Linked DNA regions of Homo sapiens. The protein of the gene in region 2 interacts with the protein of the main gene of each other region in a pairwise test. Each region holds a gene or a part of one and is shown on either strand. Other genes may lie near its edges. The genes, in order: LRRC3B, MS4A13, SSMEM1, KLRC1, SLC7A1, EREG and GJA8.

Region 1 (3,500 bases), on a different chromosome or scaffold from region 2:
GGAGTTCTTACTATGTGCCAGACACTATCTTTGATGTTGTGTGTGTTTGTGTTAGATTTAACCCTCACAACAACCCTGAAAAATGGGTAGAGTTATTTATCTCATGTTATAGATGGAGAAACCCAGTATTGAAGAATTCAAGTTATTTGCTTATTGACATTCAGCCAGGAAATGGTGGGGCTGAGTGGTCTGGTGATCAGAGAACACTGAGTGTGTCCCATACTCCCAGCCCTATTTGGTACTAAAAACCATTTGTCTGGAAGGAAGCATGAGTGAGGCCCCTCACCCTTTACTCCAAACTGCAGCGGCGTACTATAAGTGCCAGTCCTGGCCTGTGAGCCCCTGTGACTAGAGTATTAGGGAGACTGATGTTACATATCGCCTGTCTCAAAGTTTGTTGGGGTACACCTTGGTATAGTGGAATACTAGTAGAGGAAATCGATTTGGAGAACTGGCTACTGGTAATGGACTTCTCTTCTGAACCTTTTGTAGACATTCCCTTTTTAAATAGGAAGGTAAATGGAAGGAGGGATCCAAATATGAACAGAGATTTGCTCTGTAGTCAAAAACTAGAGGCAGTTTTATGTAGCAGTTGTATTCTGCAAATGAAAGCCTCTCTCTGAATTGAGTCACATAATTAGTTAGAGCTAAGAGGGATCTCAGATATTATCCCACCCAATCCAGACTCAGGGAGGAGATTCAATGCTGAGCTCAAGGCCATTTGGTGCATTTGTAGCATAACTAATGCTGGAACCACTGCCTTTTGACCCTTGCTCAAATATGGTACCATTATACATAAATAAATTATGCTCACTCCTGCTGTTTTTTTAACATCTTAAAATTAATTAGGAAAAGGCTTTTTATTTTTAAAAAGACTGTTTTGCTTATTTTCGTATAAATGCTTCTCAATCAGCATAACCAGAAAAACTCTATATCATATATAATGAATAAGCTACCACAAATGTGACTCTTTTTGCAAAAATAAAACATTGCAGAATATTTGTAAGCCTTCAAATCAACAAAAATTAACTATGCAAACCTCTGGATGATTCTAAATAAGATTAAATGATTTCTAATGATTTTAGCAGTCTTCTGTTAGATTGAGTTGCTTCATCCTTCTGCACTCCCAGGTATTTGTGAAAATAACAGGGAATTTTTCCTATCACAGGAAACATTCTTTTGAATACAGTGGCATAAATTCTTGGATTTCTCCTGGATTCTTGACTTTTCATTAAAGTTTATGCTGATGTAAAGCTGAGGCAAAACAATATATTTCTGTACTTGGGGCTCAGAAAGAGGAAAAATAGTTCTTTGTCACTTCCGATAATATTTGCCACTTCCTCGCCTACCTGGCCCCTTCAACAAAGGGGACTTTCTGCAGTCACTTGAGGATTTCATATACCTTTAAGCGTTTTTGTGGGACAAAGTTCTAGTTTCCAAGAACACCTCATGTCTTTTCTCTGTAGCTGTAGTACCAGGATGTCCTCCCCTTGGAGACAAACCAACAAAAAGTCAGCCAGGGTAAACAGGGAGGAGGGATAGAAGAATCCTGTTTTTCAGAATCAGATCAGCGGGGCAAGAGTCATAGACAGATAGTGGAAACCTGGTGCCTTTTAGGTCACCTGGAATAGGATTTCCATCTCTAATGCTGTGGCACACTAGGACCTAGGCCATCCTATAGTGAGGACCTAGGCCATCCTATAGTGGAGGAAGAAAAGAAGAGAGTGAGGCAACAATATTGTCAGAGGAGGGATGAGGTGGAGGAAGATGGAGGTGAGGCTTGGCTGCTGAGGCACCCAAGTGTGACCAAAATGCCCACAGAGAGCCAACGTGCACTAAGAGCTGCTCCTCCTCTTCCTTTTTTTCCTACCCTCGACCTCAGTCTGCGTTTTGTGTCAGGTTGACTGTTCTGAATCCCCAAGACCCCAGTTATCTCAAGGAGAAGCATTCATTTTCCGGAGAATTCATTAGAAGTCAATTTTGTTTTTATGCAAGTAGGAAAAACTTGCACAGCTGCCCCACTCTTCAGGAAGAGCCATTCAAAACCAGATCATCCAGAAGGGTGACCTTCTGGAGGTGGGGATACCGGCTTAGTTGAGTTGCAGCAGTGTTAAAGAAAAGAGACATAACACTGAAGTTAAGTGTGACAATATCCAAAAGAAATGGTCTATGTCCTAGGAACCACAGGAAGGGGAATCCTTTGGAACCTGGGCAGACATTCTGGTTTCCAATTCCCAGTTTATTCAGGGGAGCTCTATCCTCATCTTACTTATGTGGTCCAATCCCCTCTACTTATTTTACTGTGGCTGCTAGGTGGTGCAATATCAAAAGTCCCACATGACACGTCTGCTGGGGAGATTCTTTGGGGTGTACCTTTATCTTAAATCATATAAATATGAGTTCATTGACATTTAGAATAACAATTATTATTAAGCAATATGCTCTAAGACAAAGGATATGGAAAAATAAAAACTTTTATTCAGAACACAATGAATAGATATGTTTATACAATACATAGTATGAGTTAAAAGTCTTGGGTAAGATATTTGAAAAAAAATAATCAAGATTCGGAATATCTGATCTTGATTAATTTTAATAGCAAGAGAAGCTAAATAATAAGGTTCTGTAGAAAGAGTTTGAAGAAGATACTGGAAAAAAAAAAAAAAAAGCTCAGAGTAGGACCTGAGAAGCTTTACCCTTATTGATTTTATTTAAAAAAATATAAAATATCTTAATCTATATTTAGATTTGAATAATCCATAAGATTAATAAATTTTGTATTCATTTTATTATCTGAAGATTGTGACTTTGATGAACTTTATTTGATAAATGGTTTGGAGCCATGATGGAAGCTCTGAGATGTTAGTATATATCTACATATACTTTATAAAAACTTAGTGAATTAATACATCTCAACATGATAATGACATATGAAATGGCCATTTCATATGAGAATGAAATCTGGAATCTTCTCAAAAGCTGATAGGCTTGAACATACTATTTCTCCACCACAGGTGGTAAGTTAATAGTAAGGGCCATTTAGTTCTTTCAAAATAGATAAATGAGTAAATACTAAAAAAAAAAAAAAAAAATCCTCCACAAATAAAAACAGATTTTATTCTTTAGGAGGATAAATGAACAGATTAGGAAAGGTTATGAAATTTACAGTTTCATTTGATCCTAAGCTCTCTAAGCTACCTTTTATGTTAATACTTGTCCAGTGCAAATGTCACTACCTTTTCAGACAGTTTAAAAAATGCTTTAGGTGCCTTTTATTAGAAATAAAATGGAAACAAATATTATTTAAAAATGTGAAGCTATTCTCAACCATGGAGTAATATTTGACAAAGTGGTAAGTATGTTTTCAAATACAGATTAGTTTCCTTTTATTCTCTTTTCCTCCTCTACCCCTCCCCCTCCCTCCCTGCGTCCTTCCTTCCTTCCCTCCCTCACTCCCTCCCACTCTTCCTCCCTTCCTTCCTTTCTTCCTTTCTTCCCTT
Region 2 (3,500 bases):
GATTTCAAAATTATTAAAAAGAATAATTTTAAAATTAATATGTTCCCATAGAATTGGTCACTTACTGCTTGTCCATAATTCCTGTATGACACAGAATTAAAATGAGACAACTCTATTATTGTTAGAGTTACTGCAGTAATTGTAGTAATTATGCAGATGATGTTTATGATTAAAGTACTTATAATCTGAAAAGGAGACAGAGGGCAAATTTATTATATTCAGAATAAACATTTTGGTGTAATAGTTTGCATTGCTGAAAAAACTCATCTAGTTAAAACTTTGATCTAGTTTCTGAAGTCTTAGAAGTATTAAATATTAAGAAAATATTTTTCTGATTTATATGAAGCCCAGTTAATCTGGAGGAAACATTAACACCATCAGTCCATTAATCATTAATCTTCCATTTAGGCTAAAACATATTGTATTTTTTGGGGCCGGGCGCAGTGGCTCACGCCTGTAATCCCAGCACTTTGGGAGGCCGAGACGGGTGGATCACGAGGTCAGGAGATCGAGACCATCCTGGCTAACACGGTGAAACCCCATCTCTAGTAAAAATACAAAAAAATTAGCCGGGCTTGGTGGCGGGCACCTGTAGGCCCAGCTACTTGGGAGGCTGAGGCAGAATGGTGTAAACCCAGGAGGCAGAGCTTGCAGTGAGCCGAGATTGTGCCACTGCACTCCAGCCTGGGTGAGAGAGAGAGACTCCATCTCAAAAAAAAAAAAAAAAAAGTATTGTGTTTTTCAATGTTATAGGTCATTTGGAAGAAAGCATATAAGATATGATTTGGACAAAAGTGGTTCCACTGTAAGAAAAAAAAAAAAGTGGAAAATGACTGCTTGTAGAAATAGGAGTCAGTTGATAAAATTTTAATCCTGGGTTTTCATTATCTAAGGAAATCTATCAGTATCTTCAGACATCATTTTTTTATCTGTAAAATTATGAGGGCAGACTAATTTCTAAGGTACGTTTTAGCTCTAAGATTCTAAAGTGTTCTTCCCAATTCTATCCACCTATACCATGCATGGATCTTTAATCTGGACCAATTCTGTACTTTGTTACAGGACACAATCTTGTTCCCAAACTGGATAGTTCAGAAAATGAAGTTTTACAGTAGTATAATGTCTATATCTAAAGGCATTAGGTCCTATTAAAATTTTTTAATTATAAAGTTTACACAATGTTAAAAGGCAGAACATCAAACAAAACAAAAACTATATATACATTTAGAAACCTATACATAAAGTAATCATGATTTTAACCAATACAGTATATTTGTCTATATTAAATTATGTTCTTCTAGATTCATTCTTAATTCTTTCATTTACTTTACAGGTAGGGTAGATTCCTTCATTGTTTAGACGTTATATTTTCATTAAAACTTAATATTTAGCTTTGTGATAAGTGATTTCTAGAGATACCTCAAACATTTCAACTTACTCCAGATCGAGTCGGATACTTTGTTACTCTTATTAGGAAGACTCCTGCAATGATAAACTGGATATAAAAACATATTTATAAATACTCATTGATAATGCTTGCCAATTTAGAATGTACTTTTAATAACTCTCTTGTAAGTCAATTATTTTAAGAATGCTAATAGTAACAAAATATACAGAAGTTTTAGTAGATGGGTCAGGACAAATTTACATCATGTAGTAATACATTGAAAGGTAATAGTAGAGTCACTCATAACAGAGACACATAGGGGACAGTGGGCAGATTCACACTGTGATAATATGCCAGACAGCCTAAGCAGTCCTGACCGGGAACCAAGTTTGCTTTTATGTGTATGAGATACATCATATATAACTCATTTGATTATTGCTTTTAATGTTATCCTTCCTAATGAGATGATGACACTACTTATGATTACTATGTACATATCCAAATATGGAAAAAGTGGTTCAAGAATCTATTCCATATTGTGATGGTACAAAATATGCAGTCTCTTTTATGAGATTGTAGTCATTATTAAGGTAATGGCAGAAATTCATGCCTTTGCCTTTGTTTTTTAAAACAGAGGTTCCATTATTTCATGTCAGGAAGTCTGTCTACTTCCAAGAAGTATAAAACTATGCCATATTGTTTGAAGATGGGTTGCACAATTTCCTCAAAGTATTCCTTATTTGTTTTATTGATAAGACACTAAAGATCCAAGTCAAAGGCTATTTTTGTCATGCTATACACTATATGTAGGAAGCCCAAACCTGAAGCTTACAAACTTCCCATGGATAATTTTAAATCTATTTGTTCAGCACTTCATTCCACAACAAAAGCTGAGATTTCTAAGGAGGTACACAGTGAACGTAAGAACTAGCTCAGAATTTAAAGTGAAAATATCTTGTGAATTTTGAATTAGAGTGCTCTCTAATGAGATTATCTTTCGATTACTATGTGTTTTACAAAATGCCTTTCAAAGTTTAGGCTTAAGTGAGAAGTTTAGTATTAAATTACATTTAGTTGAAATTTTAGATAAGTTATCCTAGGAGTTTAATATACTATTTTTATAATATGAGTGGTCAAACACTAAGGAAAATGCATCATTTATTTGGATTTTGTTGGAAAATCCACAGTTTTTCTCCTCTTTTTTAAGGTAGTGCTTTGACACTTGTGACCCAGTGCATCATTTATCATTTATCACCTATGAACCAGTGCATTATTTATGAGCCATTCATCTTTTATGAACCATGTATCATTTATCTGGATTTTGTGCAAAAATTCAATATTTTTCTCCTATTTTTTCAAGGCAATCCATTGACACTTATGAATTAGTGTATGTATAAAAGTGGGAGACCTCCTAGAGATCATTGTTTCTTCTAGTGATTAATTGCTGTCTCAATGGGCAGCCATATTGTATCCTACAGCCCTCATTCCATCTGTTCGAAGTGTGGGATAAGTGGTTTCCTTGCTCATTATTGCTATCCAACCATTCTTTCTCCTCCACCTTTGAATCACATGTCAGTTTCTATAACTCACTATCCTTCATGGTTTAAGTAATCTATTGACCCCTTGGCCATTCCTCTTTTCGAATGAATTGAAATTTTGACTCTCTGATTCTCTCTCCAACATCACTTAATATTTGGTGATTTTTACACACACACACAAACACACACATACATATATATGTGTGTATATATCTATATATATACATCTATCTATCTATCTATCTATCTATCTATCTATCTATCTATCTGTCTGATCTTTTGATATGGTTTGGCTCTGTGTCCCCACCCAAATCTCATCTTGTAGCTTCCATAATTCCCATGTGTTGTGGGCGGGACCCAGTGGGAGATAATTGAATCATGGGAGCGGGTCCTTCCCATGCTGTTCTTGTGATAGTGAATAAGTCCTATGAGATCTGATGGTTTTAAAAATGGGAGTTTCCCTGCACAAGCCCTCTCTCTTTGCCTGCTGCCATTCATGTAAGATGTGACTTGCTCCTCCTTGCCTTCTGCCACAATTGTGAGGCCTTCCCAGCCATGAGAAACTGTAAGTCCAA
Region 3 (3,242 bases), on a different chromosome or scaffold from region 2:
GGAGAACCAGTTGTTAAACATTTACCAGTGCACCACTGCTTATAGGTTATTGAAAAAGATGTCATAGACAGTTCATAATCCTGTAATAGCACTAACCATGAGGATGTGGGAAGGGCAAGCAATGTGAAGGGAGAGAGCTAAGGAGTGAAAAAAGAACTTGAGTTCCACCTCCCAGTAATTCATAGCTTCTTGCTAAGCAGCTAAACTGTCCCTCTGCACTAGGGAGTCCAAAGCAAAAACTCACCCAACCCCAATGGGCCTCCTCTAGTGTGCAAAGTCTTACAATGCTGTTGGCTGTTCATCTCTGTTTTTTGCTTTCCACACTCAGCACAAATTTCTTTCTTTGTCTTTATTTCATTTTTCTTTTTTTCTTTTTCTTTTCTTTTCTTTTTTTTTTTTTTTTTTTTTTGGTACTGGGTCTCACTATGTTCTCAAGCTGTGGTCTTGAACTGCTTAGCTCAAGCAATCCTCCTGCCTCAGCCTTCTGAGTAGCTGGGACTACAGGCATGCAACACCACACATATTCTTCCCCTCATAGTCCAACACCAAATATGCACTGGTTCTCACCTTTCCTTACTGAAGTACTTGTCCCACTGCCTTCATCCTTTTTATCCTCAGACATCTGTTTCAGAAACATAGGTTAGTAAGAGTGATCTCAGTTGTTTTTTGATAATATGTACTTGTTATAAAACACTATTGCTGAGGCCCATTTATAATGTCTGGTTTTATTTTTTTATTATTTTATTTATTTATTTTTGGAGAGTCTCACTCTGTTGCCCAGGCTGGAGTGCAGTGGCATGATCTCAGCTCACTGCAACCTCTATCTTCCGGGTTCAAGTGATTCTCCTGCCTCGGCCTCCCAAGTAGCTGGGATTACAGGTGCCCGCTACCACGCCCGGCTAATTTTTGTATTTTTAGTAGAGACAGGGTTTCACCATGTTGGCCAGGCTGGTCTTGAACTCCTGACCTCAAGTGATCTGCCCACCTTGGCCTCCGAAAGTGCTGGGATTACAGGTATGAGCCACTGGGCCTGGCCTGACAATGTCTAATTTTAAACATTCAGTTTAAACAAGTACTTACTGAGTTAAATAATAAGCTAATTCAGTATGTATTGAGTTCCTGTTATAGTGATCCTACTTCCACTTCCCATTAAGACTATGCTTTGATAGCAGCATCTACCAAAATGTTTTGGACCAAACAAAATGGAACAGACTTGAGAGAAAATAACACTGACAAGGAGCTATAGCTTATAAAGCTTTCCTGTACCCATTTACATTACAGAGAAGTAGTGTTTTTAAAAAATTTGATAGTACTCAGATTAGTTTAGTTGTTGTTTTTTTGTTTTGTTTTTTTGTTTTTGTTTTTGTTTTTTTTTTGAGACGGAGTCTTGCTCTGTATGCCCAGGCTAGAGTACAATGGTGCGATCTCAGCTCACTGAAATCTCCGCCTCCCAGGTTCAAGTGATTCTCCCGTCTCAGCCTCCCGAGTAGCTGGGATTACCGACATGCACCACCACGCCCGGCTAATTTTGTATTTTTAGTAGAGACAGGGTTTCTCCATGTTGAAAAGGCTGGTCTCGAACTCCTGATCTCAGGTGATCCACCTGCCTCAGCCTCCCAAAGTGCTGGGATTACGGATGTAAGCCACCGCGCCTGGCCCAGATTAGTTTAGTTCTTAAAGGACACTTGATCAGGGTACATTACTGATAGTTCTTTAAGACAGAAGACATCTACCATACACAAAGATCTTTACCGAATTCATGAACTTAATATCTCCTTAATCCCTCCGAAAGTTTCCTCCAAAATGTAATCATGATATATTATTTGTGAATACAGCAACCAAAAGAAATGGATTTCTTTGAATAGTTTCAATTTCAAATATTCTGCCCCCCAATACTCCATAAATATATTTGTCCCATTTTTCAGATTAGTGTCCCACTTTCTAATGCTGAAAGTGATTTTGCCAAAAGACACAGATATAAACCAACTCTTTCAGAAAATAACAAAAACTAGAAATTTTCATTAACACCTTTGACATATAATTCTCTCTCCAGGAATCTATCAGCAAGAAATAACCCTCAGAAGAAAGAAAGCTTTGTCCACAGAAACATTCATCACAGTATAATTAGGATAATAGAAAATTCAAAAGTAGACAATGGTTTAAGTAAATTATGGTACAATTATATAATAAACAGTTGTAAAATTATTATAATAAAAGTATGTCATAACATGAGGAAATAAGTGTGCTACCATACTGGGTTAAACATCAAGATGCAAATTTGTATATACAGCTTGAGCGACAAATTAGCTTAAAATATGAAAAAAAAGACTTTAAGGAGCATATAAAAGTGATAGCTATGGTTGGCTTTAAGTGGTGAAATGGACTTTTTCTCTTCTAATTTTTTCAAATTGTCTACAATTAGGAAAAAAATGAGTTTATGTGGAAGTCCAGTTTCTTTGGGATGAAAAGTGCCATAGTTCGGTATTTATAACTGCAATCTAAGATCCTCAGCTCATTCTTAATATCTGATCTCTGCAATGGTAGGCAAGCATCTTTAATGAGGTGCCTTTTTGTTTTCTGGGTTACAGCAATCATTCTCCAAAAATCTTGAAAGCGGAGTTCACTTTTAAGATACCACTTTCTGGCCAGACACGGTGGCTCATGCCTGTAATCCCAGCACTTTGGGAGGCTGAGGCGGGCAGATCACAAGGTCAGGAGATCGAGACCATCCTGGCTAACACGGTGAAACCCTGTCTCTACTTAAAATACAAAAAAAATTAGCCGGGTGTGGTGGTGGGTGCCTGTAGTCCCAGCTACTCAGGAGGCTGAGGCAGGAGAATGGTGTGAACCTGAGAGGCGGAGCTTGCAGTGAGCAGAGATTGCACCACTGCACTCCAGCTTGGGTGACAGCGAGACTCTGTCTCAAAAAAAAAAAAAAAAAGATACCACTTTATAAAAAATGCTTTTGGAAGAGGCTTAAATATTTTAAATTTAATATGTATCACTTAGGTTATAGAAAAGGAAAAAAATAAATTTAATATATGTAAAGAAAATCAAAATAATTGGAAGTTTATAAACCTAAAAGTTAACAGTAGTTGGTTATTTCTACATAATCTGGAGTGATTTTTATTTTATTTTGTCTTCTGCCCTATAATTTCCACATTTTCTATATAATGTGTACTTTTGTAATAGACAGGAGAAGGTATTTAAAAACACTTATTAGGCTTATATCATTTCCACAG
Region 4 (2,425 bases), on a different chromosome or scaffold from region 2:
TCAGAGTTGGAGATTTAGAAGAGAAATTAGAGGTTGTGATTCAGAAATAAATGACATGGAAGCTACATATTGGGTTTTCTGGGTACCACACCATTCTTTAACTAGATAAGCCCTCACTTTTTTATCTGATTTGGTTTTGGTGGAATAACAGTGATCCTGACCAGGTGGTGTAGACTCGTCTCTCTCTGCTACTCCCTACTAAAAACAACTATAAACTCTGGGATTAATGAAAGACAAAAGCAATGGAGAACTCTGAAAGGTGGAAAGAGAAAGATGAAATTGTCTGGGACCCTAGCATCAGGGATCAACCAAGTGTCCGAGCGAGCATGTTAAGTCCTCCACACGACAGAAGAAGGTGACCTAGGCCTGCTGTTTCCCTACACCCAACCTGGCAATAGGAGGAGGCCCAGCAAAGCTCACTCCTGTTCTGTATTGAAGGGGAGTCCCCTCCGCAACAACAGGCAAGGCTGGTACCACTGGCAAGGATGATCTACCAGGAGACTTGCTACCAATACAGCCAGAGGAAGTACTTCCTTCTCATACCAAGAGACACCAGAGTGGATGTGGGTGAGGAGGATCAGCAAAGGAACCCAATGACTACCAGTGCACCACCCAGGGTCCTCTTTGTCCCTGAGGGCATGAGACTCACTTCCCCATCCAGAGACACAGGATTGAATGGATTCTTAGTGTTCTTTGTACATACTACAGCAGTGAACAGTAATAAACGACAGATAACCGCAATAATATGGAGGAATTGCATAAATATCAGATAGGAGTGAAAAACACAGACATGAAATTCACAGTGTATGATTCCCTTTATATAAATTCAAAAGCAGGTAAACGTTATTTATAACATTAAAAGTCAAGACAGTGTTTTGGAGAGGAGTCAGGATAAGTGATGAGGGCATACACAGGGGTGGAACTACTAGAGCTGGAAACTTTTATTTCATGATCTGACTTGTATCACAGGAGTTCATTCACTTTGTGATCAATCTGCATGACCAGATCACATCATGCCCGATAAAATTAGATAGCAAAATGTATTGTGGATTGAAAGCATTTCTAGAAGCATGGTTTTCCATGAAAAGCAAAAACTGAAAATAATCAAAAGTACATTAGCAGTATATGAATTTTAAAACATTATTAAGTCAATCAATTAAATACTACATAAACTTGAAAACATATAAGCTAAATGTATATACCCACACATATGGATGATTTCTACAAATATATTATCGACCGAAAGAAGCTTTTCATAAAGTGTTTAAAACATTTACATCTTACCATTTCTTCTTCATTATCTATAGAAAGCAGACTGGAGTTCTTCGAAGTACAGGCCAGCAAACTCTCTTCCCAAGTTCTTCTTTCCTTACCAATGTAGTAACAACTGTTGGAATATGTAATCCACTCCTCAGGACAATGGCCACAATGACGTGCTAAATAAAGATATGAATTACTATCTAGACCAATATGAATTTTTAAAAATGAAAATTAGTTCACATATTTGCAAACATATAAACCTATACGTATGCAACATATCTATACATCTTCATGGGCTGGTAAATATATAGTGTCAAAATACCCAGTCACTTATACACACATGCGCAATAAAGGGTCAGCCTTTCATCTCCTAATTGTGTTCCCATATAAAGCAAACCAGCAAACAAAAATCCACTCTATACATGTCTTGAAAAATCAATGAACTAATCTGATTTTTAAGGAACAATAAATAACTTGTATCTTATCATATTATAGCAGTAAGAATTTGAACACAACAGATAAAAAGAAAGCATAGTGATTTTACTTATAGTTGATGACAAGTGAATGCCTTACTCTAATTTTATTTATGAACACTTATTGCCAAATTTTATAATTTTTCACCCAAAATTTTATTTTTGTACAGCCTAAGATCAAGAAAAAATAAACTGTACAATATTAAAACTTTAAAAATTATTATATACCTTTCTGAGTTCTTGTATTCAGGGAAGAATTGTTGTGCCTCTGTATTAATGTAGCTAGAAAAATTAAAGTAATCTTTGTAAAAAAATTAGCATCTAAATCAATCATAATAATTTTAAGTTTTTGTTTGAATTTTTTTGTATTATTTAGAGTTAGAATAATATGGAATAAAATTGATTTTAAGAAAAATTTGATAAAGTAATGGTGGTTTTTTGGAAAAGTATTTCATAGATCTAAAGAACCAAATTTCACCATCTCATATAGTTCTTATAATTCTTGATTTAACTACTTTCAAAAATTAATTTCTATTTCTCAGTAAGGTTTTTCAGACTCCTAGAACATATTTTTGAGTTATGAAATCCAAATATATACATACGATTGCATCAGAAGCGAATACTTTCAACAATTATTCTTTCATTTATTCTTTGACAAATTCAGAATAATCATTCCACATTTAGTCCAAATA
Region 5 (3,500 bases), on a different chromosome or scaffold from region 2:
ATCTGTCTCTATCCACCCAACATTTAGCCATAAAAATGAGGGCACATGATAGAGGGGGGTGAGGGGCCACCCAACTCTTGCCAAGGACGTCCTCCTAACTGGGCTCTCAACCCAGGTCCTCCCCTCTCCTTGGCAGCTCCCAATGGAGCTATCACCAACCTAAAAGTTTCATTCATCACATAAACCATAGCTGAACTGTGAAAAGGCTACCAGGTGCATCTGCATTTCTGTCATGAGACCCCCAAAAGCCATACATACCGTAAGACCAACACACAGGCAGCCACCAACGAGTAAGCCAGGAGAGTGCCAATGGACATGAGGTCCACCAAGTCCTTCAGGTCAAAGAGGAAGGCCATCACAGCTGGGAAGAGACAGACACCAGGATCTGTGGAGGGCCATCTGCATGCAATGACAACCAGGACCACCACTGCCGCCCACCATCCAGGGCAGCGAAGGGGGCTGCTTTTACTCCCACCCCCTCCCTGGCCTTCCCATGGAAAGACACAGCTTAAAGGGAAGTCAAGCTTCCCTTTAAGCTTGTGATTAAATCACAGACACAGTCCTCAACAGACAGTAATCATCATTAACATTTGTATAGAGAATCCCTTCATTCTTGTGATTTTAATGGCAACTTTGTAAGCCATCCCTACATTATAGATATAAACATTCACAAAGGTTAGGAGACTCATCTAAGGTCACACAGTTCACAAGCATAGGGTATAAGGATGTGAACTGGGTTCTTATGACTCTGAGTCCTGTGTGTCTTCCTCTAGACCATGCTGATTCACAGACTCATGTGCATCCATCCATCATCCATCCTATCGGTCCATCCATTCTCCATCAATCCATCTGTCCACCTATCTTCCATTCATCCACTCACCATCCATCCATCAATCCATCTCATCCATCTGCCCATCTCCCATCCATCTCATCCATCTATCTATCCATCCATCCATTCATCCATCCGATCCACCCATCCATCCATTCAGCATCTATCCATCTACCCATCTTCCATCCATCCAGCTCCGGTCAGAGTGTGCCCATCATTGGGTTCTAGGTACTCACTATTGAACAGGGCAGACCACAGTCCCCAGCCTTCCTGAGTGTACCCCACCAAGACACAGGCATTAGTGGACAACAGTGCTGGGTGATAAAGAAGGGCAAGTCTGGTGCTCTGGGAGGACTCACAGGAGGTCCTAACCCAGGCAGGCGGGCAGGAGAGCAGAGTTCTTCACATGTGAAGTCACTTCACGTGGAAGAAATCTGAAGAGTTGTTCTCAAACAATATAGTATCAGCCCCTTCACTGTGTCCCTTGCCTTTAAAATGAATTAAAACCTGCACCCTTATTTGAACATCTTTTGTGAGCGTTGTGAGAGTATACGTGTCTATTCACATGGGTGTGTATGTCAAGTACTCATTAAAAAACAACTTGGCTACATCTGCTTTGGGATATTTTCAAAACACATGCAATCAACACAAGCTAAAATATAAACACAAAGCCATTATTTTTCCACAAATATCTCTCAAGCCCCTCTAGATCACTGCAACTAAAACAAATTTAAATGGAGAATAAAACACAAAATTAAAGAGCAATGAGGGAGGGCCTTTTGGATAATCAGAACAGCGCCCAACTGTGCATGCCACAAATGCCGATGTTCCTACTCACGGGAAACTTGAGACTAATTTCTTCCATGTGAGGTGATTTTAGAAAACCAAATACTTATTTACCACTCCCACCAAATGAAAAGGGTAAATCCTGGATTTTGTGAATGGCATGTACTTTACAGTCACTTCAAAGAGCATGATTTGATCTCCCTCTATCAGCAGGGGAAGGAAATTAAGGCCAGTCTTTAATATGATCAAATTCCACGTAAAGCCTGAGAAAACAATGACTATTTCCAAGTCCTTAATCCTGTAAATATACTGGTCACATTCTGATGTATAGTGCCTCTCAATCTGACCACTGTGGTCACTCTCAAGAGCATAGAATCACATAAGAAAATGTTTCATAATTTAAAAATAGGTGTGTTTTATTATACAATATTAATCCACAAAACTAAGCACAGTTTGCTAAAGGCATAAATGCTAATAAAACTTAGTGAATAATTCATTCATTTAAGAAGGTCAAGTGCCTTACCAATGGCTATTTGACAAGTCGCTGTGTTAGAAACTGTGACTGATCTCACATGCCCTAATTTGCCAAAAAGACCCACTGCTCTGCTCAGACTCTGGAAGGAGCTTGGCTACTTTGGCATAAAAACAACCCTGGAATCACAAGGCCGCTCCACCGCCCTGGGTGCACATCCTCGCTTCACCTCCCTGGGCCTCCACTTCTACATCTGTACAGTGGGCTGACGTCTGCCTTTTGGGGCTACGAAATGCAATTGCGAAAGGGGCGGGCGTCTGCCTCTCGGGGCTATGAAATGCAATCGCGAAAGGAGGAGACATAGACCACAGGTACAGTGTGCACACGAGCTTCCTTGTAGGTTCTCCTTTCCTTCATCTGGGGCCCTGGAACACCTACACGGCTCAGATTAGTCCACTGATTTCATCCATCAAAATGGTCCTCTCAGCGATGAGGCTCATCTGACAAGATGAAACTCCACTGGGTCTGCTATTACGTATAAACTTAGGGGCAAGTGGCTTCATCAGCAGCACCCTTGATACTCTCTGGGGAAGAGGCGGCACATTTCATAAAACACTGATCATAAGGGACACTTGTTTTCCAGAGAATTCAGAAATGGACGCCGAATTTCCAGGTACTGGCGAGGTCTCCCTTGGCCTGTGTCATGCAGGAAGGTGTCAGCCTGCCCTTGACTACTCAGGGAAACGTCCAGAAATGGGGAGAAAAGGTTTTCGAATACTGTGTGTTCTAAGCTCCGCCCATTGAGATGAAAACCAGAGTGCAAACTGTTCAAAAATTCTCTCCCATCCTCTGTCAAACGGGCCTCTGCCTTTTGTCAAAAGGTCAGTCAACTTTCAATGAACCAGGCTCCAAGTATAAAAACCAGGAGTTAAAAAGACCAGTTAAGATTACTCACAGACCAGAACTGCGCAAGACGTCTCCCTAGGGAGTAATGACTCCATTGTTAAAACATTTCCATGTGAAATGAGTTCTAGTACTCACCAGCAACGGCACCCGAGGCTAATGTGGCGATTATTGGTGTTTTGGTCCTATCATTGACGTTGGCTAAGAATTTAAATAGCAGTCCATCCTCAGCCATGGCATAGATAACCCGAGGCATGGGAAACATGGAACCTAGAAGACTAGATGGGGAGAGGCAAACCGCGTGAGTGAACCTGGCTCATAAGGGATAAAGGCACCACATCCAGCCATGCTCGGTTTACCACGGAGGAGAGGGAGTCTGAGCTCACCAAGAGCTGCCGTCCCTCCACGCTGGGTGAGGCCTGTGGCTAAAAGACTTGGCATTTAATAAATCAATCCCAGAAAGAGCACACACTGTGAATAAGGATTAAGGTAAAGAATAGGGAACATCTA
Region 6 (3,500 bases), on a different chromosome or scaffold from region 2:
TCAAGAATGAAAAAGCCAAATATAGTATTTGAGGTCCAATCATAGAGAAATTATGTTCAAACAACACTAAGGTCATGAAAAGCCTGACATTAAGGAAATATATGCATGCTTTAGCATTTATTCCCTCCCTGTATGACTCATTAAAGTAATGACTAGCGATTCTTTTTTTTTTTTTTTTTTTTTTTTTTTTTTGAGAGGGAGTCTTCCTCTGTCGCCCAGGCTGGAGTGCAGTGGCGCGATCTCCGCTCCCTGCAAGCTCCGCCTCCTGGGTTCAAGCCATTCTCCTGCCTCAGCCGCCTGAGTAGCTGGGACTACAGGCGCCCGCCACCATGCCTGGCTAATTTTTTTTTTTTTTTTTGTATTTTTAATAGAGACGGGGTTTTACCGTGTTAGCCAGGATGGTCTCGATATCCTGACCTCGTGATCCGCACGCCTCGGCCTCCCAAAGTGCTGGGATTACAGGCGTGAGCCACCGCGCCCGGCCTGACCAGCGATTCTTAAGGTTAACAGGATAGTGGATGTAATATTTCTCTGGAGATAGATTTTTTATTCATTGGATCGCATTCACTCTTCTACCCTAGTTTGCAAGTGTTTGGGAGCAGACGCATATTGCAGGAACATTTGAGAACCACTATTTTAAAGCAATAGTGCTGTGCAGATGGACATGACTTAGAATTAATTTTGCTGTTTTCTTGGCCACATCCATCCATGATGGAATTGCAGTTATACACTTTAATTTGAAAGGAACATTTAAAATTATATACGATTCCACCTGTAAAATATCCTGCTGTAGGATTAATGCAGCAAGTCTCACAGAAACTATCCTGAGCGATGGACTGTGTCCAAGGGAGCGTCACGAGTAAGGAAAGTCCAGTCTTTGTGGAGGCACACCCTGGGCTGAACATTCTTTAATTAACAAAGACAAACATTTCACCTGTGGCCTGAACAACTGGAACAAAGTTTCCAACGGTGGAAAAACTAACAACTACTAAAAACCTTTAAAAAAGAAGACTAACAGCAACACTCCAAAGTAAGTTGGATTCTATAATAGTTGCAGGTTGCAATTGGAGGCAATTCCAAGCAGGAAAGGTTAGGCTTTAGTTTATGCAAAGGATAGAGAAACTAGCTTCAAATGTGCATTTTTTTCCCCCTGGCTAGCATTTTCCTGGAGGGAGAATTGGTAATGTCTCCTCCAAAGCTTTCCTCAGTTGAAGAAATATGTAGGAATAGGAATGTCAAGGATGTAAGCACGTGCAACTAAAACTCCAATTTGTACCGAGGAAACTGTATTAGTTAAAGGATTTCATTCTTCAGTAGTGAAAGTATGGTGAAATTATTATTGGGATATAAAACAAAATTGACTTGAATGAGAATCTAGCTTATCCTCCATAAAAAGCTTAGTGAAATAGTTTTCAACTCTGTTCAACTGACAATGAAATCTAGGCTTTAGCTATTTCTTTGTCATTCAACAAAAATATATTTTTTGTAGTTCCACAAGAGCAATTGAAGCAGCATTTATATTGTAGAAAAAGCATGGAGTGGGGAGGGGATAATTCTGAACTTTAAAGACAACAGAATTTTCAAATTGTTGAAGAACAGGAGACTTGATTTCAAAAGATAAATTTGTAACTCTTCTCTTCTGTGGTCACAAGTGATCTTAGACAAGACATTTAATTTAAATACACTGAGGGTATTTGAGACTAATAACTACTTCACAGAATTAAGTGTGAAATTTGATATATGAAGTTATACATTATGATGCTGATGCCGATGTGTAATTTACTTTTCAGAACCCAAAAATATACAATCGGCTTAACAGATACAAGCCTTCTCTAACTGAGAAAAAATAAAATTCTTGTATTACACGAATTAAATCTTTCTTTACAGTACCAAATTACAGAGATAGACAAACTTGTTATAAACCAGAAGAGGGCACTGTCCACATACACTGCTAAAACCAGAGGCTAGAAGTTGAGAGTCAAGGAACATTTATGGGCTGTGACAGCCATTTCAGAAAAAAAAAAAAAAAAACATTAGTTTATTTCACTGTATTCTCCCCAAAAATCTATAAGATAGGAAAAATTAACACCCAGAAAAGTAAATTAATTTTTTTTCAAGATCACGTAGCTCAAGTTTTCCTCACAAGACTGCCTTTCCACCATAATTTGTGGCCTCTATGTTGGGTTAAATACTCTACTTCAATTACAGCTATCATAATTTGTTCTCTGTGATGTCCATTATACTCTAGTATTATTGCCTATTTCCAAATTCTATAAAGTGGCCCATTTAACAATATGTATCCTTGGGAAAAGTTATTTAAACTCTTTATGCTTTAGTTTTCTCTAATGGGGATAATAATAGTATCTTCCTCAAATTGGCCCTGAGAGGACTAAATAATATAATACAGATAAGGTGAATAGGACCATACCTGGTTGTATTAGTTTGTTTTCACACTATTATAAAGGACTTCCCTGAGACTGGGTAATTTATAAAGGAAAGAACTTTAATTGACTCACAGTTCTATATGGCTGGGGAAGTCTCAGGAAACTTATCATGGCCGAAGGCGAAGGGGAAGCAAGCCCCTTTTTCACAAGGTGGCAGGAGAGAGAGGCGGGAAGGAGGAACTTCCAAACACTTATAAAACCATCAGATCTCATGAGAACTCACTCACTATCCTGAGAACAGCATGCAGGAAACTACCCGCATTGATTCAATCACCTCCCTCCTTGGACACATGGGGATTACGGGTCCCTCTCTCAATACATGGGGATTGCAATTCCAGATGAGATGTGGGTGGGGACACAGAGCCAAACTATATCACTGGTACATAGTACATGTTCAAGAGATGGATCGTCCTCTGTCTGAACTGTGAAAGAAATGGAAAGTTGAATATATTTTGTTGCCTTTATGGAGGCATTAATCATCCTTTCATAACAGTTACCACTTACTTAGCTACTTCAACGAAACAGGTTGATTCAAACTCTTCCTGTGCTTACAGAAACTGGATTCTCAGTGTGGTTCATCTGGCATGCCTATTCCTTCTCATATTAGATAGGATATATTCTGATTTTACCTAGATTACATTTACCTAGCTGCCTATCAGTCAAGGAGAATTTTCAGGAGTAGGAAGTCATTCTAGTTATCACGCACCCTAGGCCAATAAGCACCGGAATCCAAACGAAAATGTCCAACCGACTAAACAAAATCACATAGGAGGTATTTATTCTCAAAAGACAACCTTTAGGGTGTAGAAAAAGCAAGCTTAACACACATGTCATTATCCCCCACGGTAGGTATTATTCATTTCTTCAAACAAAATATGTCTAATTTTTTTCAAATCTCAGTTCTGAAATTCGTTATTCCCCAAAGCAATTGCAAGCTGAAGCCATTAATTAATTTAGTGGAGCTTAATTGCTGCTACTACTACTACTACCACCACCATTAGTATTTACTATATAACAGTTACTTAAATAAATTGGAAAGAGTGTTTGAAGTGCAAA
Region 7 (3,975 bases), on a different chromosome or scaffold from region 2:
CGAGCTGCTGGGTCCTTCCCCCTCTCCATTACCCATTTCTCCAAGGAACTCTTCCCAATGCCAGACCCATGACTGGGGATGCCACAGCTGCTGTCACTTTTTCAGGAGAAGAGAAGCTGCTGCAGGATGCCCTGCCTGATTGGGAGCTTATGAGGCCTCAAGAGGAGGAGCACTCTCTGCTCTCCCACAAGAAGCGAACAGCTATTGTGCCTGCCCTGACAGCACAGGCTGGACATTGCAGATGCCTGCAATTAGTATCCTGCCACCAGGTTCTGTCTGGCCAGACTCCAAATCACAGGTTGGAAATAGGCTTTTGTGTTTAACAAATATCACTGTGATTAAAAAACAATAGGCATATCCCTTTAGCCCCATAGGTTCCTAGGCCTATAGCATGGGGCATGGCTAGAAGAAGCCCAGAGCAAGATCCTCTAACATGGGCTCTTGCCCTGGTCTGAGGGCAGTGATGAGTAAACTTATAACTCTAGAGATGTTCAAGCTGCAGGAACAACTGTTCTCCATTGAGGTGGAAGTTTTGCTCATCATTCTTTATAGGTTACAGGTTTGCACTGGATGAATGACCCAGTTGCAGCCAGCCCCTTGTCAGCTCAATGCCATTTCCATTAGCCATTGCTGTGCTACAGGCATTATATACTATCATGTTTAACGATATTTTTTCTATAGACCAAATTTTTGACTCTATTAAAACAGCCATATGTTACAGACCCTGAAACATTTTCATTCCATAGGACACTAAAAGTGTCCTAGAAGACCTTCCTCATCCTGTGACATGATTCCTTCCCAAAGCATTCTCTCTGTTCTTTGGATTTAAAAGAGTAATAATAAAAATATACGGCCCTCAATGTGTAAAGCTATTAATAAGGGTTTCCAGATTTCAACCTAGAGAAGAGGAAACATAAATTAAGAGCACAGAAGTCAAAGAATTGTGTAGCTTTGATTGCAGGCAGTTTATCTCAATGGTGTAGTGGGAAGAACCCAGCCTTTGTGATCAAGCAAACAGAACTGCTGCTATTTAGCTGTCTAATCTTGGACAATATATTTAGCCTCTCTGAGCCTCAGATTTCTTTTTTCTTTTTTTTCTTTTTCCTTTGAGACAGGGTCTTTCTCTGTTGCCCAGGATGGAGTATAGTGGCACATATCAGGGTTCACTGCAACCTCGACCTCCCAGGCTCAAGCAATCTTCCTGGCTCAGCCTCCCAAGTAGCTGGGAACACAGGCATGCACCACCGAGCCCAGCTAGTTTTTAAAGTTTTTTGTAGAGATGGGGTCTCACTGTGTTGCCCAGGCTAGTCTCTATCTCCTGGGCTCAAGTGATTCTCTTGCCCTGGCCTCCCAAAGTTCTAGGATTACAGGCATGAGCCACTGTGCCTGGCCTTCAGTTTTCTTATTTGTTGGAATCAACTTAGTTAACAAATACTTATCAAGTTCTCACTGTGTGCTGGGCTGTATGTCAGGCATTGAGTATATAGCTGTAAATAAGACAGGCATGGCTCCTACCGTCATGGAAATTACAGTCTAGCAGGATCAAGTTAAATGAAATAATATAATGTCAAAGTTCTTTCACAAAGTTGGTATTCAATAAATGCTAATCCCCTTCCACTTCCCTTCAAATATACGATCATTATATATTCTGACACTCAAACATAAGATGGCCACAGACAATTTCATACATACAAGAATTGTGTTGGGAGCCCAGACACCCATAGTATAAGGGAACTCTTCAGCATTATGTCTCACGAAACTTAGATCAGTGTGTGGTCTTGATTTAAATCCATGTAACCAAGGGTTTCTATTTATGGTCAACAATGAATCCTTATTTTTGGTGGACTTTAAGGAATTATACAAATATTGCCTCATTGATGCTTTCAGACCATTTGTGAAGTGAATGAGAATAGGTATTATTATTATTAAACCCATTTTACAGATGAGGAAGCGGATGGAAGCACATTCTTCGGGGCCTTCTTTGTTCTCTAGTCCTAGTCTGCACAAAGGAAGCACTGGATAGACGCTGTGTGCACATTGACCGTTCTGGCAACTTGGAAAGGAGAGGTACCCCGCGTTAGCAAAAACAGATATTGACTCAGGGTTGCATTGCGGCCGCTCAGCTCTTGCCTTCTCCCTCATTTCTTCAGGTGGGTGAGAAATGGGCGACTGGAGTTTCCTGGGGAACATCTTGGAGGAGGTGAATGAGCACTCCACCGTCATCGGCAGAGTCTGGCTCACCGTGCTTTTCATCTTCCGGATCCTCATCCTTGGCACGGCCGCAGAGTTCGTGTGGGGGGATGAGCAATCCGACTTCGTGTGCAACACCCAGCAGCCTGGCTGCGAGAACGTCTGCTACGACGAGGCCTTTCCCATCTCCCACATTCGCCTCTGGGTGCTGCAGATCATCTTCGTCTCCACCCCGTCCCTGATGTACGTGGGGCACGCGGTGCACTACGTCCGCATGGAGGAGAAGCGCAAAAGCCGCGAGGCGGAGGAGCTGGGCCAGCAGGCGGGGACTAACGGCGGCCCGGACCAGGGCAGCGTCAAGAAGAGCAGCGGCAGCAAAGGCACTAAGAAGTTCCGGCTGGAGGGGACCCTGCTGAGGACCTACATCTGCCACATCATCTTCAAGACCCTCTTTGAAGTGGGCTTCATCGTGGGCCACTACTTCCTGTACGGGTTCCGGATCCTGCCTCTGTACCGCTGCAGCCGGTGGCCCTGCCCCAATGTGGTGGACTGCTTCGTGTCCCGGCCCACGGAGAAAACCATCTTCATCCTGTTCATGTTGTCTGTGGCCTCTGTGTCCCTATTCCTCAACGTGATGGAGTTGGGCCACCTGGGCCTGAAGGGGATCCGGTCTGCCTTGAAGAGGCCTGTAGAGCAGCCCCTGGGGGAGATTCCTGAGAAATCCCTCCACTCCATTGCTGTCTCCTCCATCCAGAAAGCCAAGGGCTATCAGCTCCTAGAAGAAGAGAAAATCGTTTCCCACTATTTCCCCTTGACCGAGGTTGGGATGGTGGAGACCAGCCCACTGCCTGCCAAGCCTTTCAATCAGTTCGAGGAGAAGATCAGCACAGGACCCCTGGGGGACTTGTCCCGGGGCTACCAAGAGACACTGCCTTCCTACGCTCAGGTGGGGGCACAAGAAGTGGAGGGCGAGGGGCCGCCTGCAGAGGAGGGAGCCGAACCCGAGGTGGGAGAGAAGAAGGAGGAAGCAGAGAGGCTGACCACGGAGGAGCAGGAGAAGGTGGCCGTGCCAGAGGGGGAGAAAGTAGAGACCCCCGGAGTGGATAAGGAGGGTGAAAAAGAAGAGCCGCAGTCGGAGAAGGTGTCAAAGCAAGGGCTGCCAGCTGAGAAGACACCTTCACTCTGTCCAGAGCTGACAACAGATGATGCCAGACCCCTGAGCAGGCTAAGCAAAGCCAGCAGCCGAGCCAGGTCAGACGATCTAACCGTATGAAGTGACGCCAAAGAAAAAAAAAAAAACGCCCAAGCTTACGTAGGGCAAGATGAAAGGAACAGGTGCCAACATGATCTGAATCTTCTGTCTCCTGTCCTCCCACCAGCCTCTGGTTGGACAGGCACTGCAGCAGGGCAGTGCACTCCAGGCAACTCTAGGAAACAGTCTTTCCCACATCCAGCATAAGGGCTACCAAGATAAACCCATCGACCCACTAAAGTTCCCCAGTCTCATAGGACTACCCCGCTCCTCCAACCCCAGCAGCTATGGGTGACTCTTCTTTCATCCCCATTTCTCCATAGAAACCCTTAAATCGGAATTGGGGTTGCCTCATAGCCTTTTACCCATCTTGTCTCAAGCTCACTAAGCCAGAATCTATCATCCCAGCATTTCTGAAGCAGATACCATGTGACCATATTTCAGGGATCCAGACTCAAAAGCCTACAGAATACAGACAGGTGACATAAGTTGCAAGACAGGCCTGTTCTAATGCAAGGGAGAGAATGGGGCTG

Evidence for each region.
Region 1: the proteins of MS4A13 (region 2) and LRRC3B interact in binary tests that used the Homo sapiens proteins (3 or more experiments, as listed by UniProt).
Region 3: the proteins of MS4A13 (region 2) and SSMEM1 interact in binary tests that used the Homo sapiens proteins (3 or more experiments, as listed by UniProt).
Region 4: the proteins of MS4A13 (region 2) and KLRC1 interact in binary tests that used the Homo sapiens proteins (3 or more experiments, as listed by UniProt).
Region 5: the proteins of MS4A13 (region 2) and SLC7A1 interact in binary tests that used the Homo sapiens proteins (3 or more experiments, as listed by UniProt).
Region 6: the proteins of MS4A13 (region 2) and EREG interact in binary tests that used the Homo sapiens proteins (3 or more experiments, as listed by UniProt).
Region 7: the proteins of MS4A13 (region 2) and GJA8 interact in binary tests that used the Homo sapiens proteins (3 or more experiments, as listed by UniProt).

What each region holds. Positions count from the first base shown.
Region 1 is NC_000003.12:26,625,772-26,629,271, forward strand, and holds part of LRRC3B (leucine-rich repeat-containing protein 3B precursor), read left to right. Parts: intron 1-3,500.
Region 2 is NC_000011.10:60,521,892-60,525,391, reverse strand, and holds part of MS4A13 (membrane-spanning 4-domains subfamily A member 13), read right to left. Parts: intron 1,496-3,500; coding exon 1,439-1,495; intron 186-1,438; coding exon 66-185; intron 1-65. UniProt on the Homo sapiens protein: May be involved in signal transduction as a component of a multimeric receptor complex.
Region 3 is NC_000007.14:130,210,860-130,214,101, reverse strand, and holds part of SSMEM1 (serine-rich single-pass membrane protein 1), read right to left. Parts: intron 623-3,242; coding exon 568-622; intron 1-567.
Region 4 is NC_000012.12:10,447,953-10,450,377, forward strand, and holds part of KLRC1 (NKG2-A/NKG2-B type II integral membrane protein), read right to left. Parts: intron 2,016-2,425; coding exon 1,962-2,015; intron 1,437-1,961; coding exon 1,285-1,436; intron 1-1,284. UniProt on the Homo sapiens protein: Immune inhibitory receptor involved in self-nonself discrimination.
Region 5 is NC_000013.11:29,519,189-29,522,688, forward strand, and holds part of SLC7A1 (high affinity cationic amino acid transporter 1), read right to left. Parts: intron 3,269-3,500; coding exon 3,129-3,268; intron 362-3,128; coding exon 259-361; intron 1-258. UniProt on the Homo sapiens protein: High-affinity, low capacity permease involved in the transport of the cationic amino acids (arginine, lysine and ornithine) in non-hepatic tissues.
Region 6 is NC_000004.12:74,375,145-74,378,644, forward strand, and holds part of EREG (proepiregulin preproprotein), read left to right. Parts: intron 1-3,500. UniProt on the Homo sapiens protein: Ligand of the EGF receptor/EGFR and ERBB4. Stimulates EGFR and ERBB4 tyrosine phosphorylation.
Region 7 is NC_000001.11:147,905,795-147,909,769, forward strand, and holds the end of GJA8 (gap junction alpha-8 protein), read left to right. Parts: intron 1-1,361; exon of another isoform or gene 1,362-2,150; 5' UTR 2,151-2,161; coding exon 2,162-3,463; 3' UTR 3,464-3,475; downstream 3,476-3,975.